Linked DNA regions of Homo sapiens. The protein of the gene in region 4 interacts with the protein of the main gene of each other region in a pairwise test. Each region holds a gene or a part of one and is shown on either strand. Other genes may lie near its edges. The genes, in order: SMCO4, PNLIPRP1, CNIH3 and SLC16A2.

What was found.
Region 1: the proteins of SLC16A2 (region 4) and SMCO4 interact in a two-hybrid assay, tested with the Homo sapiens proteins (one large-scale study listed by BioGRID).
Region 2: the proteins of SLC16A2 (region 4) and PNLIPRP1 interact in a two-hybrid assay, tested with the Homo sapiens proteins (one large-scale study listed by BioGRID).
Region 3: the proteins of SLC16A2 (region 4) and CNIH3 interact in a two-hybrid assay, tested with the Homo sapiens proteins (one large-scale study listed by BioGRID).

What each region holds. Positions count from the first base shown.
Region 1 is NC_000011.10:93,477,221-93,481,834, forward strand, and holds the end of SMCO4 (single-pass membrane and coiled-coil domain-containing protein 4), read right to left. Parts: intron 2,065-4,614; coding exon of another isoform or gene 1,970-2,064; coding exon 1,790-1,969; coding exon of another isoform or gene 1,650-1,789; 3' UTR 1,252-1,649; downstream 1-1,251.
Region 2 is NC_000010.11:116,600,269-116,605,172, reverse strand, and holds part of PNLIPRP1 (inactive pancreatic lipase-related protein 1 precursor), read right to left. Parts: intron 4,102-4,904; coding exon 3,972-4,101; intron 1,144-3,971; coding exon 1,035-1,143; intron 32-1,034; exon of another isoform or gene 1-31. UniProt on the Homo sapiens protein: May function as inhibitor of dietary triglyceride digestion. Lacks detectable lipase activity towards triglycerides, diglycerides, phosphatidylcholine, galactolipids or cholesterol esters (in vitro).
Region 3 is NC_000001.11:224,723,808-224,728,711, forward strand, and holds part of CNIH3 (protein cornichon homolog 3), read left to right. Parts: intron 1-2,116; exon of another isoform or gene 2,117-4,058; intron 4,059-4,904. UniProt on the Homo sapiens protein: Regulates the trafficking and gating properties of AMPA-selective glutamate receptors (AMPARs).
Region 4 is NC_000023.11:74,518,374-74,523,277, forward strand, and holds part of SLC16A2 (monocarboxylate transporter 8), read left to right. Parts: intron 1-2,616; coding exon 2,617-2,761; intron 2,762-4,904. UniProt on the Homo sapiens protein: Specific thyroid hormone transmembrane transporter, that mediates both uptake and efflux of thyroid hormones across the cell membrane independently of pH or a Na(+) gradient.

The DNA.
Region 1 (4,614 bases), on a different chromosome or scaffold from region 4:
GGCTCACCTTCCTGAAAGTGACTTTACCAGTTCTTTACAGACAGGGAAACTGAGGTTCAGTGGGGTTAAGTAATCCACAATTCTGAGTGGTAGACTGGGAACTAAATGCTGATCAGGTAATTGCAAGACATGCAGACTGGGGTCTTTCTGCTGGAGTGGACAGGCTGTCCTTGCTCCATCCTCACAGCATCTGCCCTGGGAAGGGGACTCATCAGCCGCACAGCAGCCCCTGTGAGGAGCAGGGATGGCCGCAGACGCCTTCCTCCACCCTCCAGCCCCTGAATGAGAAAGTCCTTGGGACAGTGGCCTGCAGTCTTTCTCAGACCAGCAAGCACTGAAGTTCATAACAGAACCAAATAAAGGGGAGGAAAACAGAAACCTCAGAGGAACTTGATGCTAGCAGCCTCTGAATTTGGCAAGTATTTTAGCAAATCTCTTACCAGGGCCATTGGCCCTTGAGTGAGCATGAGGAGACACGGAGTCTCTCTGAGACCAGCTCACAGAGCGGGGCCGCAGAGCTCTGTCAGCCTGCTGAGTCCAGGCTCTCCAGGCATCAGCCAGAGAAGTCCTTCCTTTCAATAGCTGCTTCGTCTTCCAGAGAGACTCACTCCAAGAGGCCCCAAATCTCCACTAACAGCCTCTGCCATCTGTGAGCGAGTCGCGCAGCCACGGGGATTAGGAAAAGCACTTCTCTCCCCACAGATCTCCATAATCAGCAATGACAGGAAAACAGACATCCTCAGAACAGTAACCATGAATCTGACTTCCAAAAAGAGGCTGCTCCATCAGGAACCAGGACCGCCTGAGCAGTGCTGTTAGAATAAAATGAGGCAACCATTCCAGCCAATTTGCATTGAAAACTCAGCTGGAATGCCAACAATTTGCATCCTTTCAGCTAAGAACAAAACCAAGCCTGACCTTTACTTCCAGGATCACTCTGTATTGCTGTTTGCACAAACATACCGAGTTGAAGTAGGAAAAACTAACTGGTGTAAAAAGCACCTGTCGTCACAGTCTAATTAGAACTCTCACTTTCTAAAGCAAGCCAATTAATATACCCTTTCTGTCCCTCTCCATCTTAAAATTATCGGTCAAAAAGCATAATTTTACTCAGAAATGATGAGCAGAGGGAGTGCTGGGGAAGGTGGAGAGAGCCACAGGAGAAAGGGAAGGGGAGGGAAGAGGGGCAGACCCGTGGGCAGGGGGAGACCCACAGACAGCACCTCCTTGCAAAACATGATAAGCATCCAGTTTAAGGCTATTATCTCCTTTATTCAAAAAATAAATATTTCACTTTGATTCAACATATTTCAAATCACATTAAGCACAGAGAAGAAATACAGTCCCTTTGGAGATTGTGAACACGTGTTGGAAAGAAGCATGATCCAAACAATGGGAATGAGGTGAGTGTGGATTCCAGCTGTTTCCTGACCCAGAGGTTCCATCCCTCTTCAGGTGGAGCTACTTATCGATTTTTAGGAGAGAAAAAGAAGCACACACACACACACACACACACACACACACACACACACATGCGCGCGCGCTTTGAAGTCTGAAAGGCACATGAAGTGGACCATAAGGTGTATGGCACATTCACTGATAAAACATCCCCTATTCCCTCCCAAGAAAGCGGAGATACTTTAATCAAGTCAAAGACCAGAGAAGACAGGGTGCTCCTGCTTACAGCTCAGCAACATGAACATCTCTGAATATGAAAGCCATTTTTTGTTTGCGTCCCCCTCCCGCGCCTCCTCTCCCTGCCGATGGGGTCCGCAGCCGGCTGCGGGGCTCACTCGGTGATGGTGGGGCGCGTGGCCACGTACACAAACACCACGATCAAGAGCACGACCACGGCCAGCGTGGGCAGCACCACTGTAGTGATCTGCTGCCGGGCCTCCTGCATGGCTTGCTTCCGCTCCTTCTTGTCCTTGGAGGTCTCCTTCTTGGGCTTCCCTTTGAGCTGCCGCATCTTTCCTAGAGGATGCTAGGAGGGTGTGTCCAGAGGGATTCCAGGAAGGGCCACACTCCTCTTGCCAAGGCTGGAACCTCCTGTAGAGAGAACAACTGTGATAGTAGAGAATAAACCAAATAGAAGAAAAAATAAATCACTTAAAGGCAAATACACAACTAGGAAAAATATCTGCAACTTACATGACAAAGGGCTAAGAACAGAGGCCACACCAGGCTCTAAGTTCTCTTGGGATCAGCGCTCTAAGTAGTGGGCACTGGGTCACCGGTGTGCTGTGAGAGGGGCCTCCGCTCCAGCGCCAGCTGGACAAAGCCCTGGGTACCAGACAAATAATACTGTGTTCTGTACATGCCATGAGGTGAAAGGATTGGGAAGCACCAACTACGCCGCCTCCACTCAGAGGAGCGGCTCTCCCTTTCGTGGCTCTAGCTACTTGCTTTCCTGCTCTAAGTTCCATGATCTCCCCAGCCCATCTCCAGCATGGAACTGCAGGCAGCCTGCAGTCTCCAGGCACGTAGCCCCCTTCCTGCCCAAGCCAGGCCAGCCTCATTAAGGCTGCAGAGAGCCCACAGGCATCAACTTCTCTCATCTCTTTGTTGGTTCCTTGGCCCATTCATCCAAACCTTCCCAAGCACCCACCGTGTGCCAAGCATTACTCAAGGAGCTGAGGATAGAGATGAAGGACTCAGTTGTGTCCCCACAGAGGTCACCGTCTAGGGGGCATGATGGAGACCCGGGTCACAGTAATAATGAAGGGAGACGGCTGAGCCCACAGTCCTGCCACCCACTCAACCTGGGATTCTCCTGTTAATTCTGTAGCTCACGGAGGTGCCTAACAGGTGAAGTAGAACTTTCAGGGGCCAGAAGAATGAATACAAATGTTTGGATAACTACAGAGGAACATCTCTATAAAAGTCGGCTTCTTAGCTTTAAGCAGATGAAGCAGACTTCAGCTGATTTAAATCGAGTTTACTTAAAGGCCTTTGGCATCTCACTGATTCCCAGAAAAGCCAAAGAACCAGGCTCAGAAAATGGGCAGGACATTATGCTGTGCTGCCATAACTGGAGCCCAACTCACACTCCCAGTGTGAGGATGCCAGAGCCTGCATCACCACCGTCAGCACTGGACATGGGCACTGGAGCAGGAGGTGCCGAGCCACCATGACCACCCCCAAAAACTAGATGTGGCTGCTGGCACAGTCTCCAGATGAACTCGCCACCCCCCAGCATTCTGCATCACCAGCTTCCATGCATGTGTGACTAGCCAAGCCCCGGCCCATATGCCCACAGCCTAGCCTTCCAATTTGTACAGCAGGAAGAGTACTTTTCAAACACAGTGACGGAGTGGGGTTGGGTATCAGGGCTATATCAAAGGCAGATGTCCATTACAATATTCTCGGAGAGTAGCATGGAGTGAGGGGTTCTTGGAAGCAGAAGAGCACTGAATACCAATGTTCCTCTAGCAGAGGGACCTATGCTGTATACTGTCTGCCCTGTTTTGTCCCAGGGTAGTGGGTGGCCTGTCATCATCTTGAGGAGGAAGATGACATTTACACCTAAGTGACCGAGGTGGTAGAATGTGAACTCAGAGTTGGGAAAGGTCTTACTGACACCATCCTGTTTTTATGAGGGATACTTAATCTCTTACCATTCCTCTCACTCCATTTAGACCCCAAAACCTTTTTTGTATCATTCAAAATCAGGCAGAGTTTCCTAAGGTATGAGATGACAAATATTATTGTGCTAGGATGGCATAATGCCAATCAAAAGCAAACATTAAGGTTCAGCAAATATTAAGGGAAGCGCCATTTGGGCAAATGTATAATTTCCTTCATGAAATAAGGAACAGAGAGAAAAAAAAAAACACCTACTATTACTTTCTTAAGGCCTGAAAGGTATAGGAACCCCTGGCTTTACCAATTCTCCTTTTCAAGTCTTCCAAAGGACTTCCAGGCAGACTTGCCTTCAAATCCAGGACCAATCACTTACAGGCTAAATGGCTTTGAGCAAGTCACTTAACTCCACTAGGCCTCCATGCCATCATCTGAACAATGAGAACAGCTTGTCTTAAAGGATGACTGTGAGAATCTGGAAAACAAATGCATCTGTACCCAGAGCTCTGCCCGCCCGCAGGGACGCGGTACAGGTGGGCTGAGACATCTCCACCCATACCCGTGGGCGGCCCAGGGACGGGTGCACTGAGCTCCTCTAAGCCTGACTGCAGCCTTGAGTGATGCCCACCTTCGCGGGACCGTGGTGAGGATGGAGTAGGAAGCTGTATAACTCAGGGCTTGGCACAGAGCGGGCGGCGAATTCGTGCTAGCTGACATACCAACACCTGGAACACACCCCAACGGCCCTGTGAGTCAGACAGACAGGCTTTATTATCCCCATCACGGAAGGGAGGAAACCAAGGAGCAAAGGGGAAAAATGTCTTGCCAACAGTCACCCAGTTTGTAAATACCCCATGGCTTCTAACAGAGCAATGGACAGCATTCCTGTTCAAAGCTGCAAATGGCAGCCTATTCTCTCCGACACGGCCTCAAAAAAATTGTTTAAAAAGAAACAAGCCATTAGCAGCACTCTGATTCGTGGCCATTTCCTTGTGGAGCTAATGGCCTGTCGGAGCCCGCTGCTGTCTCTCC
Region 2 (4,904 bases), on a different chromosome or scaffold from region 4:
ATAGAAAATAAAATAGAATTCCTGCATATCATTTTATATGTTTTGGAAGAATTATTTGTACAGTAACAAATTGGCCACATAGTATGGCACAATAAGCATGTGTTATTGCACTAATCAGAAAACAGCATATCTGAAGTAATATTAGATTTATGTTTAAAAAAACATCTATTAAGAGAAAGAGGCCGGGCATGGTGGCTCACGTCTGTAATCCCAGCACTTTGAGAGGCCGAGATGGGTGGATCACTTGAGGTCAGAAGTTCGAGACCAGCCTGGCCAACATGGCAAAACGCCCCCCATCTCTACTAAAAATACAAAAATCAGCCAGGTGTGGTGGCACATGCCTGTAATCTCAGCTACTTGGGAGGCTGAGGCACGAGAATTTCTTGAACCCGGGAGGCGGAGGTTGCAATGAGCCAAGATCGTGCCACTGCACTCCAGCCTGGGTGACAGAGCAAAGACTCTTTCTCAAAAAAAAAAAAAAAAAAAAAAAAGAGAGAGAAAGGACGAAATGCCTAGGTTTATAACAGAAAAGAAAAATTATTAGCAGAAGTCTGCAATTAACATCAGTACATAAAGTTATATAGTCCTGCGTTGCTTAACAATGGAGATATGTTCTGAGAAATGTGTCCTTAGGTAATTTAATCATTGTGTGGACATCATAGCATGTACTCACACAAACGTAGATGGCACAGCCTACTACATACCTAGGCTGTATGGTACAGCCTATTGCTCCTAGGTTACAAACCTGTACTACATGTTACTGTATTGAGTTCTGTAGACAACTGGAACACAATGGTAAGTATTTGTGTATCTAAACACCCAAACATAGAAAAAGTACAGTAAAAATATGGTATTACAAGCTTATAAAGCAACTGTTGTGTATGTGGTCCATCAACTAAAATGTTGTTACATGTTGCATGACTATAATTAAAAACCAGTGACATATAAAGAGATGATAAGTGTTCAAATTAAGTGTGTGGTTTGAAGGCTGTGTATATCATCAAATGAGACGTAGTGTTAAAATAGGAAATTACCTGAAGATACTGTACTGGTGAGTGTTTCCCTTATTTCCAAACAAAGCAACTTTGATCTGACCAGTGGCTGTTCTTCCAGACAGTGTGATGGAAACCCCATATCTCCAGCCTGCACAGGAGATGGAAGAGTTCAATTTATTCACACACAAAATAAGTAGCCTACATCCCAGACTTGTCTCCTTCTCTTACTCTGAGGCAACAAAGCATAAGAAATTCTTTTCTAAAAAATTATTATTATTATTTTTTGAGATGGGGTCTCACTCTGTCACCCAGGCTGGAGTGTAGTGGTGCAATCTTGGCTCACTGCCACCTCTGCCTCCCAGGTTCAAGTAATTCTTCTGCCTCAACCTCCCTAGTAGCTGGGACTACAGGCACACACCATCACGCCTGGCTAATTTTTGTATTTTTAGTAGAGACAGAGTTTCGCCATGTTGGTCAAGCTGGTCTCCAACTCCTGACCTCAAGTGATCCGCCCGTGTCCGCCTCCCAAAGTGATGGGAATACAGGCGTGAGCCACCACACCCAGCCAAAGTATAAGAAATTCTATTTGTTAATCTACAAATCAAACAAGGCCTTATGGAGAAGTATGTATTTAGCAGTATCCCCCTCTAGAACTGCATTGCCCAGGGAGGAGGTCACCAGCCACATGTGGCTGCTTACATTTAAATCCAAATTAAATACAATTAAAAATTTAGTTTCTCAAACTCATTCGCTGTGTTGCAAATGTTAAGTTGCCACATGAGGCTAATGGCTACACAGAATATGCCCCTCATTGCAGAAAGTTCTGTTAGCCAGCTCTGCCCCAGAATGGCAGTACAGTAAGGTAAGGTGAAGAGAGAGGGAATAGGGGCTTGTCTCCACATTTGGGAAGGTAGCTCGGGAGTGCAGCCTGGCAAGCACCTCGAGGGCGGGGACTGTGTTTCCTCTCTGCTCCCCAGGGCCCTGGGCAGTCTCTAGCACAGAGCAGGTGCACGAGCAGCTGTCACTTAGGCTTCTACCTGAAATGCTGTCCCAGGGCCTGCATGCACACGCACACAAATACAAATACATATACACAAACATATGCATGTGCGTGCACACACACAAATACATATACACAAACATATGCATGTGCACACACAATACATATACACAAACATGCATGTGCGTGCACATACACAAATACATATACACAACATGTGCATGTGCACACACACATACATCTACACAAACATGCATGTGTATGTGCACACACACACAAACCTACACACATTTAACCACGCACATACATAGACACCCACATACAAATATACATACACATGCACATACATATACATAAACATACAGACTCATATACATACGTATATAAACACATGCATACACACAAAGGTACATACACAAACACACTCACACATGCATTCATACACCCACACATGTGCACAGATGTACATTAATATACACAGACATGATTCTTGCCTAACTCCTATTCATCTTTCGTGTCTTCAGAGACCTTGACCCTGACCCTCCTTCTGGTCAGGGCCAGGTTCTCTGTCCCATAATGTCATGGCAACAGCCACCAAGCCCAACACGCTTGTAGTTGCTTGCCCAGTTTCTGTCTTTGGCTGGATTATTAATTTCATGAGAGGAGTCTCTTGTTCGTCCCTGCATCCTCAGTGTCTAGCATAGTCTGTGGCCCATAAATAAATGTTGATTGAGGAATGAATACCTGGTTTTTGAGTGTTTAATTTGTTGTTGAAATATTGGCAAGTATTTCATGCATCACAACATCAGTGGAAGGATTGATTAATCAATGTCTTCTTACAAAAAAAATACACAGAGTGGGCCGGGTGCGGTGGCTCACGCCTGTAATCCCGGCACTTTGGGAGGCCGAGGCAGGCGGATCACAAGGTCAGGAGATCGAGACCATCCTGGCTAACATGGTGAAACCCCGTCTCTACTAAAAATGTAAAAAAAAAATTAGCCTGGCATGGTGGCGGGCGCCTGTAGTCCCAGCTACTCGGGAGGCTGAGGCAGGAGAATGGCGTGAACCCGGGAGGGGGAGGTTGTAGTGAGCCAAGATTGCGCCTCTGCACTCCAGCCTGGGCGACACAGCGAGACTCCGTCTCAAAAAAAAAAAAAAAAATTACAGAGTGATATATATGGTGATAGAAGTGTTCTGTATCTTGATTTGGAGGTGTTTACACAACTATTCATTTGTCCAAACTCATACAAGTGTATGCTAAACAGCGTGCATTTTGCCAAATATAAATTATACCTCAATAAATCTGACTTTAAAAACTATGTAAGATGTGTTATACATTTATATGAATATGTAACCTCTGTCTTTACTGGGTCACCTCCTATGGAAGTGTCATGGGGCAGGTTGGTACAAAGTGGCCCAAACATGCCCAGTCTCTACCCTGTGTCTTAGTCCATTCAGCAGGTTTTGGAGAGAAATCATCCTTCCCCCTGATTCCTGCCTGCACTCCACCAGCGAGGCAGCCCCTGGGCATCAGGGATGCACAGACAGAGGGGAAAGCAGAGAATGGAGTTGGGCTTCTTAAGGGACATAGCCCAGCAAAGAGCTGGTACCAATTACGTCTTTGCTGAATGAAGAGAACAGGTGTGTCTGATGCGGCCTTAAAAAGGAAAGAAACAATGAACTGTGGAGTGGTAAAAATTCAGGGTAGCTGGTCACAAGGATGTGCAAACTGGCCTCATCCCATTAATTATACTAGTTGCTTGCTCTCATTTCATGCCGCAGAAATAGAACGGAAGAAATGCACACTCTGTCTAAATCCTCAGTTTACTTGTAACTGCAATAGTTTCGGTAAATGTGTCCATTTCTAAGATAATTAAAATGTACCCACAAATATTTCAGGTTGAAAGCAAGCCCCTCATTTGTAACAGAAACTATATACTTTCTTTACATGGGCAGGTAGTCAAAGTGCAACTTACGAGCGAAATTGCTAGCCTCTCCTGTGTTCAAGAAGAATTTCTGCTGCTCTTCACTTGTCCTGCCAGCAAATTTATCAGCATAGTGACCCATCTGTGGGCATCCTTGATCTGGACACGGGAAGCACTTGTCCTAATGAGAAGAGATAGATGGGACTGTAAGGAGAATTTGTGTTTGTATGATCGATACATCTGAGAGGGCAGACACTCAATTTTCCTACAGCCTAAGCGTTCTCCTTTGTGACAACAAAGGGGTTGGAGCAGATGATCTCTAAATTACCTTCATCTGGATCAGGGTTCCCAACTTTTAGGCACAACACATTAGAATTATTTGAGGAGCTTTAAAAAATACTGATGCCCAGGACCCAGGTTAGATCAATTATACCTTCTGTTGAGTGGAGCTGGTGAATGATAAGCAGCAAAAGCTCTGGGACAAAAACCCTGGATTGCAGTGCTTACCATTTTCAGTGGTGTAAATACTCTGACTGTGGCCAGTTTCAGGCTACCAACATGATGTCTCTGAATTTGGAGTTGGGAAGGGATACTCATGCTGGCTTTCGTGAGCCAGAATAGGCAGGCTCTAACCTGTCATTCTTCATCTCTCCCCTTGTTGCCAGCCTGGCATATAGGACTCCAGCATCCACCTTGCTTTCTCTCTGGTGTGAATTATTCTCTATACATTCTTCTACTCTCGCTCTGCCCTTGCCAGAAATGTGCATTCCTGTGTTTTCTAAACTGTATCATTTTTAAGCTAGATTCAGAGGTTGCCTCCTGCAGGAAGCCTCTATATCATTGAATTGACTGCTCTTTCTCTCTGATTTCCCAGTTTTCCTCTGCCACATAACTCATGTCATCTAAAATTTTAGCCATCTCCTGCCAAAAGTTGTTTACTTTTTTTTCTCTTCCACTCCACAGGACCATGAACTCTGAGGGTCA
Region 3 (4,904 bases), on a different chromosome or scaffold from region 4:
ACTTGGTCCAGGCATTTAGGAGAGCTCCTAACAGCAAAGGGTTTTGAGTCACAGCCACAGTTCCTGGTGTACATAAAATCAGTAGGTGTCATATTAATTTTATGGTGACTTTTTAAATTATTCTAGGACCAGACATGATGGTTCACGCCGCTAATCCCCACAATTTGGGAGGCTGAGGTAGGAGGATCACTTAAGCCCAGGAGTTGAAGACTAGCCTGGGAAACATAGACCCCATCTCTTAACAAAAAATTTTAAAAAATTTTAAATAAGATTATAATTCTAGACTAGGTTATTCTGTGTTAAGTTGCTTATGTAGCAGAGCCTTTGTCTTATGGCTTAAAACTATTTAATAAACTTTGATGCAAATTCCAGGAGGTCAAAACATTTAATATGCCAGCACCAACAAATAGGGACCACTCAAGTCGACCCAACCCAAGTCCCAGCTGGCGGAGTGTTCCTACTGTATCATGCCATTTGAGGTTGGCTGCTAGTCCCTGACACAGCAAGGCCTATGGGGCTGGGCAGCCCTCCTGGATGCCCAGGCTGGTGCAGGCTTTCCAAAGACGACCTTCATCCAGAGTGATTAAAGAGCATGTGGCCTCCTGAGAGCAAAGGGGCCCAGAATGTAGTTTCCTGACATTGCTTGGAGATGCTCACGTGCATGATTATTCATTTGGGAACAAATGGAGAATGATCTCCATGCTGGGAATACTGACTTCGTCCGGGGCATCCCAGAGGGATCCTCTGTTTTAGGGCCAGTTTAGTATGGGCTGAGGAATCAAATAAAAGATATAGTATCTTTTTCTCCACACTCTTTGGCTCCTGGGGCAAATAAACCTTAGGGCAGACACACAGAACTGGATTATTGCTGTTGAAAACAGGCAAGGATTGAGGTTTTTTATGATTTGAGAGGCAGGCTGTTGAAACAGCCCTTGGTTTCTCTTCCCACTTGAGGAAGCTGGAGCTTGGTTCAATCAGAGGGAGTCAGGAGACTGAATTGAAAAATCAGGAAACCAACTCTGGTTCTGGGTCATTTCATTGACTTTCACGGTAAGAGCAACAAGTTATCTACCTGAGAATGGTCATCATCTAGTATATGATTATTAAAAATAATAATGACCGGCCAGGCATGGTGGCTCATGCCTGCAATCCCAGCACTTTGGGAGGCCAAAGCAGGTGGATCACGAGGTCAGGAGTTCAAGATCAGCCTGGTCAATATAGTGAAACCCCCATCTCTACTAAAAATACAAAAATTAGCCGGGCATGGTGGCACATGCCTGCAGTACCAGCTACTCGGGAGGCTGAGGCAGGAGAATCACTTGAACCTGGGAGGTGGAGGTTGCAGTGAGCCAAGATCGTGCTACTGCACTCCAGCTTGGGTGACAGAGCAAGACTCTATCTCAGAAAAAATAATAATGATAATAATGATCACAACACAATAACAATAGTGGTGTCTTCTTTTGCTGGAGGCTTCTTCACTTTTGAGAGCACTGTCATTCATAGTACATCCTGTGTCCCTGGCTGGTAGGTATGGCATTTTACAGATGGGTAAAATAAGACTCAGCATGGGTAGCTGCTTTTCTAAATAGCACACAGTTGAGTATTATGTAACTGTAGGAATTTATATAATGCTTTGAGACACTGGGCTAATATATTGAGACTTATGGGATTACAGCTGTAAAGCTTGTTGTCTGAGTCGACAGGGGCATTCAGAGATGGGTAGAGACTCTGAGTCTCACAGCTTCTACTGTCTTCAAGATAAACTCAGTGCCAGGAGCTTCCCTGTGGCTTCCATAGCTGTGACTTTTAAAGTGTTTGGTCCCAGGCATGCTGACACCAGCCCCTCAGAAAACCTATGCCCTTGGAATGCATGATGAGAGCCAGGAGCAGACGGATCTCCAACAACAGGGGCGCTTGCTGCCTCTTCATCTCCCTCATCTTCTCCCTTCCCCTGGTCTTAAGGAATCCCTTTTCTCCACCAGGAGCATTATTCCCTTGCTTCAACTCCAAGCATCCCCTTCCTACTTCTTTTCCTTTAGGGGTAAGAAGAATCTCTCCCACAACCCCTGATGCCCCTCTCCACCACAGTAGTAAAAATAAGACAGGACTTGGCACACGATTCTATTGTTTTCATAATCTATAAAGGGTACCAATCAGCTGCAGGTCATTGATGGGATAAAACAGCAAACAAATGGATACATGAATGAATGAGAGGATACATAACTAGAAATAAAATATTTAGAATGCAGACAAGTAAAATTCCTGGAAAAACAAGATTGTGGACAATGGCTTACAGCTGAGCTGAGCATGGCATATACTGCTCTGTTGGGTGGAGGGCACATGTGTGCAGGGATGGAAACCTGCTAGAAGGTTCTTGCACCAGCCTGGAGAGGAGGTCCAGGGGCAGGATAAATAAAAAGGAAGGAACAAATGCAAGTGGCTGTGAAGAAGCAAGATTTGGAAACAGACTTACATGGAGACTGATGAGAAGAAGGAGTCAGAGATGGTATGGTTAGTAGAAGTTGGAAATTTAGGAGATAAAGTTTGCAGGTACTGATAGGAATGTGAATTTCAGCACAAAGTGGTTGTGGGATATCCAGGTGGAAATGTTTGCCAGCAAATGAAAATTGACTATTAGCATCTGGGTAGGAAGTCAGGACAGGTGGAATACAGTTAGCGTTTACACAGTCCTTACCGGTTATCATTAATGTCCTTTAATAGGGGCCCTTTGAGGTGGCCTTGTTAAGGAGCCACCCCAGACCAGTGACTTCCATCTCTCTATGCTTTTGCTTTCACTGTTCCACTTCTAGGATGCCGACCTCTGGTTCCCATAAGTGATTAGGTTTTACTCGCCCTTTCCAACTTCCCTTTGATCACAAACCTTCCATGATCCCCCTGGTTGGAATGAATTGCAGTCTTTCAGTAATCCCACAATACTTATATTGAGATTTAGGATTTATGACTCTAGAAAGCAGGGTAATAATACATGGCAATTCAATAGGCTGTGGCTTGCATGAAATAGTTTCTCCATTTGTTGAAAGAATGAGATTGGCACCATTCAACAGCTTCTCTTATTAAAAAAAAAAAAGTGTTTTCCAAAGCTAAGGGATGACTCAGGGTCATGGGGCTGTGGTGAGCGCTTGCATCAGCATCTCTGTATTTTGCTTAGAAGCTTTAGGGGTGGTCCTTATATAACAGACACTCTCAGAGTTGGGAGGGAACGCCTGGTCTGACTGCCCACACAAATGAATGAGCATTATGCCTGCCTGGTGGTTATTCAGCCCCTGCCCGAGCATGTCCGGTGACAGGGAGCTGTGTCCTGCCGGCCTCGATGGCTTGTTAAGGAAGGGCTGAGTGGATGGTTGGGGGAGGATAAACAGTGAAGAGCACAACTTTGCTTTTCCCATTGATTACTCAGTCTGGGGCTTGCTGATGGTATCATATGAGATAGGTTAAATCATGCTATGGCAAAACAACAACAACAACAACAACACTCAACTCTTGGCAGCTTAAAACAACACAAGTTTCTTTACTGCTCACACTCTAGTCCATCATGAGTTGCCTGGGGGCCTCTTTCCTTACTTGTGGCTTCAGGATGATGGAGTACCCACCATCCTAAATGCTTTTTGCTTTGTCAGAGGAAAAGGAAAAGAGACTCTGGAGAATTTTGTATCAGCCGTTAAGTGGTCTGGCCTTCTCTCCACATCACTTCTGCCCACAGCCCATCAGCAGCCCCAACCCCTGAGAGCTGGAAAATGAGACCTTACCACCTTCCAGAAGGCTGAGTGCTGGGTGTGAGTGGAGGCAGCCATAATGGCTATGGTGCAGGCCTCATGCAAATGGCCTGGCTGATTTCCATTTGGTCTAGAAGGAAGAGGTTCCTTACCTCTTCCACATCATTGTGACAAGAAGCAGCTGGTGAAGTAGGCAAGGATCAGTGTGTGTATCAAAAGGTCACTGTCACTCCTAAAAGTCTCTGGATTAATTGGAGGAGCCTCTTCTACTTGTAAGGATCCTGTTCAGTGTTCTAGGCATAAGAGGTCATCTAGAGAAGCCACCTGAAATGGCAGAATAAATTCTTCAGCTTTTTTCCCAACCTCCAAAAGGCTGGAGACCTCCGTGACTAGCTGGCCTGCATTAAGCAGTTTTCCTCTACGTGGAGACAGTGATGAATCCTCCCTGCTTGGAAGGTTGCAGCCTCCACAATAAATCAAGCCCCAAAGAGAGAAGAAGCAGTGGTGATTAAGAGTGGGACCTGAAATCCAAACTGTAATCAGTCAGAGATTTGTCATTGGAATTGGAGATGGAGATGGAGAAATAATGGATGATTCAGGCCCACGGTGGCTGTCTCTAAACATGTTAATTGCCTCAGCTTAAGTGGCTGAAACTGATGATTAGAAAATGTAGAGATGTGCATAGCAGAACTCACAGCCACTGCCTCCCGGGGCTGGCGCACCCAGCTCTGAGAAAGTGGGCTTTCTCTTTGAATGGGAGGGGGTAGGGTGATGCCTTGGCTGGGGGTAGATAGGATTGGTTATCACAGCTCTGAGGTCCTATAAGGAGATACAATAGGGACATGGCGTGCCCCCTCCTGCCAGGTGGTTGAGATTCACAGGGGCTGGTGGTACCTGCTTCACCCACCAAGGGTCACCACCTCTGGAATGATGGCTCCTTTGCTCTGATTCCTCAGGTGATTGCCTGAGAAGTCTAAGGTGAGGGTTAATGCAATTCATCTACACTGGACTTTGAGAATAAAGAAGGTGCCCCATAGTTACAAAATGTCTTACACGTGTGCTGTGCATGTCTTTATTTTTAATGTGTGCGTATGTGTTTCTCCCTCTGTGTCTGCCATCTGGGGTAGTTAGCTCATCTAACTAAATTGAGAGACCAAAGTCATGGTCCAT
Region 4 (4,904 bases):
ATTTGAGGCCGGGAGTTTGAGACCAGCCTGGCCATCGTGGTGAAACCCCATCTCTACTAGAAATACAAAAAATTAGGCATGGTGGCGTGCGCCTGTAATCCCAGCTACCCGGGAGGCTGAGGCACAAGAGTTGCTTGAACCCGGGAGGCAGAGGTGGCAGTGAACCAAGATTGCGCCTCTGCACTTCAGCCTGGAGACAGAATGAAACTCTGTCTCAAGAAAAAAAAAAAAGAAAAAGAAAAGAAAAAAGGCTTTCTTGGTAAGGGCTATCTCATTGTGGTTTTAATATGCGTTTCTCAACTTATTAGTGATGTTGAGCATCTTTTTATATGCTTAATTACTATTCATATCATAAATGTATGTGCACATGTGTAATTGTGTAATCTCTGTTCAATTCTTTTGCCCATATTTTAAGTTAGATTGTTTGCTTTATTATTGAGTTATGAGAGTCAACTCACTCTTGTATGGTGGATACCGGTCTATTGTCAGATTTTGTGTGCTGCAAAATTTTTCTGTCTATGGCTTGCCTTTTCATTTTCATAACTATTTTTGAAAAGCAGAAGTTTTCAAGTTTGATCAAGTCTAATATATCAAATCTTTTCTTTTATGGATCATACGATTTGTGAATATCTGCAAAATCTTTGCCTAACCAAAGGCCAGGAAGATTTGTCTCCTATATGTTCTTCTAGAAGTTTTATAGTTTTAAGTTTTACATTAAGTCTATGATCCATTTTGCATTGATTTTTAAACATGATGTGATTATTGATATTTACAAAGTTCTCTTCTTATACATATAATTTTATCTGATTTTTTTTTTTTCTTTAGATGGAGTCTCACTCTGTCACCCAGCCTGGAGCGCAGTGGTGAGATCTCGGCTCACTGCAAGCTCCGCCTCTTGGGTTCAAGCGATTCTCCTGCCTCAGCCTCGCTAGTAGCTGGAACTACAGGCGCCCGCCCCCACACCCAGCTAATTTTTTGTATTTTGAGTAGAGACGGGGTTTCACTGTGTTAGCCAGGATGGTCTCTATCTCCTGACCTCGTGATCTGCCTGCCCTGGCCTCCCAAAGTGCTGGGATTACAGGCGTGAGCCACCACGCCTGGCCCTGATCATCAGCGGATCACAAGGTCAGGAGATCGAGACCATCCTGGCTAACACAGTGAAACCCCGTCTCTACTAAAAACACACAAAAAAATTAGCCGGGCGTGGTGGCAGGCACCTGTAGTCCCAGCTACTCAGGAGGCTGAGGCAGGAGAATGGTGTGAACCCAGGAGGCGGAGCTTGCAGTGAGGCAAGATCGGGCCATTGCATTCCAGCCTGGGTGACAAAGCAAGACTGTGTCTCAAAAAAAAAAAAAAACAAAAAAAAAACGAAAGAAAGAAAAAGAAAAAGAAATGTTTGAGGCAGGCACAAGCAGAAATTTTAATCTCCATTTCACAGATGAGAAAACTGAGGATTAGAGAAATGCTGTGTGACTTCTCAAGATCTCACAGCTGATAGGAGATGAAATGGCAAGGTAAGAGGTGAAATTGTGATAAAAAGTTAAGGTCTCCTGCTGTCCCAGGCTAGTACTTTTGAAGCCAGGCAGAGAGGGCTCAGGGTAAGGCTCCAACAAAGTAAAGATTCCCAATGGGGAGCTGAGCAACCTATTTGGCACTGAGGTAAGAGACACAGCCAGTTGACTAGCCCCAGACTGAGCTCCTTTGGCCCATTGGGGCTCCACAATTGGAGAGAGCCAGAAGTTGGCCCAGTGCCTAGCTCATGTGTCACTCTTTGATGATGATGATGAAGAGCTGGAAGTGTTCAAAGGAGAGTTCTGAAATTAATTTCAGAGTTAGAAATTAAAGCTAAGAGGAAAAGTTAAGGAAACGAAGATTATTTGGCGGAGAAAAGAGAGGCTCAAGATGAAACTTGATAACAGCCTTCAGACGAAATAAAAAAAAAAGCTTGAACTTTCCTTCTGAGGGCTGAGCAAAGGGAAACAGTCTGGAAGAATCTAAATAAAAGGGCAAGTTCCTTCCTCCTTAGTGAGGATTGTTATAGACACTTAAGAGCCTTTAGAAACAGGATAATATCTGCTTGAGTTTGAAGTCAGGAATTTGCCAAACATGGGCTCTGATGACGGATTTCAGCATGAGGGTTACATGACTCTTGCACAGTGTCCTTAGAAATCTTTAGGTGGCCTATGAACTTGCCTTGTATCCTAGTACAATTCCAGGGGGCTTTTGTCTGTGGCCTTCTCTACTCCTTAGTCTTATCGTCTTCACAGGGTTCTTCTAATGCTGGAGACAAGCCTGACCTTAGCTCCTGAAAGCTTAACCCCAATGTTTTTTGCCCCTGAAGCCAGTGGCTTAGAACCTAAGGCTATAGATCTGGCTTAGCATCCCTGGAAAGGCCTGAAATATTGACTAGTCCAAATCTTACCGCAGTGATAGAATCCCCTGTTTTATATCTAGTCTCTTCTTGCAAAACTCTCTGAACATCAGGGACTAGCAAGCTGGCAATGCAGACCAATGCAATGCCCCCTGTGAAAGGCCAGAGAAGAAGAGCTGAGATACCAGCAGTACCACCAGGCACTACACTAAGCTAAAGTGTCTTTGCACTTGTTTTCTCTGCAGCATGGGTCGGAGCCCTCGCGATGGGTATGATCTTCTTCTGTTCTCCCATTGTGAGTATATTCACTGACCGTTTGGGCTGCCGAATCACAGCAACCGCGGGGGCTGCCGTTGCTTTCATTGGCCTCCATACCAGCTCCTTCACCAGGTAAGGCTAAGAGTTGGTGGTTATTTCCCCAAGGCTGAGGGTTGGTTTTTTTCTGGGCTTTAGCTAGGGTTACTTTTCTCACTGCAGAATCCCCTGTGGCCATGGCCCTGTAGGGCCCTCAAAGATCCTGCACCCTGGATTCAGAATCCAGTGAATTCATCTGGGTAGGGTCCCCAGGACACATTGGTAGGGAATATCCCCAGAGAGGACCTAAGAGTTCCAAAGTGGTAGGAGTACTCTAAGCCTGGTAGTTCGTAGAGCTGGGCCCAAGTCCGGTTTTGGCCACTGAATGGCAATGGAACAATTGATGAGTACCATTGTTCTCTCTGTGCCTCAATTTCTATATCTGTAACATGAGGGGATTTGACCATATGGTCTTTTTACATCTCTTTCAACTCTGCTATTTGATTCCCCTTCAGTGTGCCACACATCTCACAACCTCACTTTCCATCCCAAGATTGAGCTTCTCGAGTGAGCCCATGTGAACACCTAGCACAGGATTCCCAAAGGAATCTTATGCTGAAAAAAGAGGTCAACTGAGCCCAAGGATGTTTAGCATTTCTGACTCTTTTCCAGATAGCTCAGGCTGCTGACATATGGATGATTTGGGACAGATAATGATTTACATCATGGGCATCAGAAGGATGATTAGCAATATCCCTTACTGAGATACAAACCCAGAACCCAGCTACCCAGCTAGGCCTGGGCTAAACTGAAACCCTAGTCCCACTGGTTCCACTGGCAGAACTTGGCAGTATCAGGTGAGAAGCAGGCTCTAGGTTCATTTTCTGCTTTCTTTTCTGCCAGCCCTGCAGAAGAATGTGTGTAGGGTAAGGGAGAATAAATACCCTAACCACAGCCTGAGGAATATGGAATTCCTAAAGAACTCTGTTGACTTTCTGCCAAAGACACTTTGGAAGTTATGGTACCTCCTACTTCCAATCTGCTTGGGCCGATGTAGGGGAATGCCAGCCTGGAAACACAGAAATGAGAAATGGCCGTGGTGACATGTCTGGGATGAGGTCAGAGCTAATTTGTCAGAGACTTGCTTTCTGAGCTTAGTTACCCAGAAAAGCGTCATGGCTCTCTAGGCCTAAGGTTCCACTCACAGTAGAGAATGATAATTGTGTTTTGCCTTAACTGGGCCCTGTGAGGTAAGCCAGCTTTCTTTATGACTTGAGCATTTCCAGCTGCCCAGCCTACCCTACAGCAGAGCTTGGATTTGGCCTGCAGTCATTTCTTGGCTTCGTCCTGTCCAACTGGGACAGAGAAGGGAAAAACCGTGTCCTGCCTGGAAACTACTCAGCACTCCCAGGGCAGCAGCTCCAAACCTTTTCAGAACCCCTCTGGTGGTCAGCCTCATTCACCCCCAGCAAGCTGGTGCCTGGCTCCTTGTGGGGAGGAGCTAGGCTTCAAAAGCAGCTCCAGTCTCAGCACTATACAGCAAAGGTCTGTTTTTTAAGACCGAGCAGAGCAAAGTGTAAACGGATTAGCAACATATGGATTCCATTTCCCTTCCAATCCACATGGGCTCAATTACAGGAGGGGAAGGAGCTCAGATGTGGTGTTTTCTTCTGGCACGCTACTGTAGGCACATTGGAGTAGGCGTTCTGTTCTCTAGCCCCTAACCTTCTTCTCTACCCGCTTTGTTCTTTCTGTAAGAGGATCTTCAGAGCCAAGAAACTTTCTGGATGGCTTCACATCCAGTGGAAAAATGGTTCTTCTCATGGCTAGAGCTCCAAATCATCCTTCCTGTTGTCTCAATCAGGGCCCTGAGTTCCTCCGAATGACATGGAATGGGGCAGGATGCAGGCAGGGCTGGTGGGGCTTTGGAAAACCCAAACAATGGGCATCCATCCCTGGGGCCCAGCTAGAAGTAGATCCACCACATGGATCTAAACCAAATCCTATGTTTTTCCCCCACTGGCCCCTTCCCTGAAGGTCTAACACAAGGCCCCTTGGATAAGGCCCCCAAGCCAGGCCGATCCCATAGGGTACCTAGAATCTAATGGGCACAGGCCCAAAGGAACCTGACAGAAGAGGAACCGTTGGCTTAGCTATGTGTTCCAAGCAGAGACAACCCTTTCAAAACCAAATCCTTGCTCACGTCCAGTGAATACCAGCAGATGGAAAGCAATAGTGA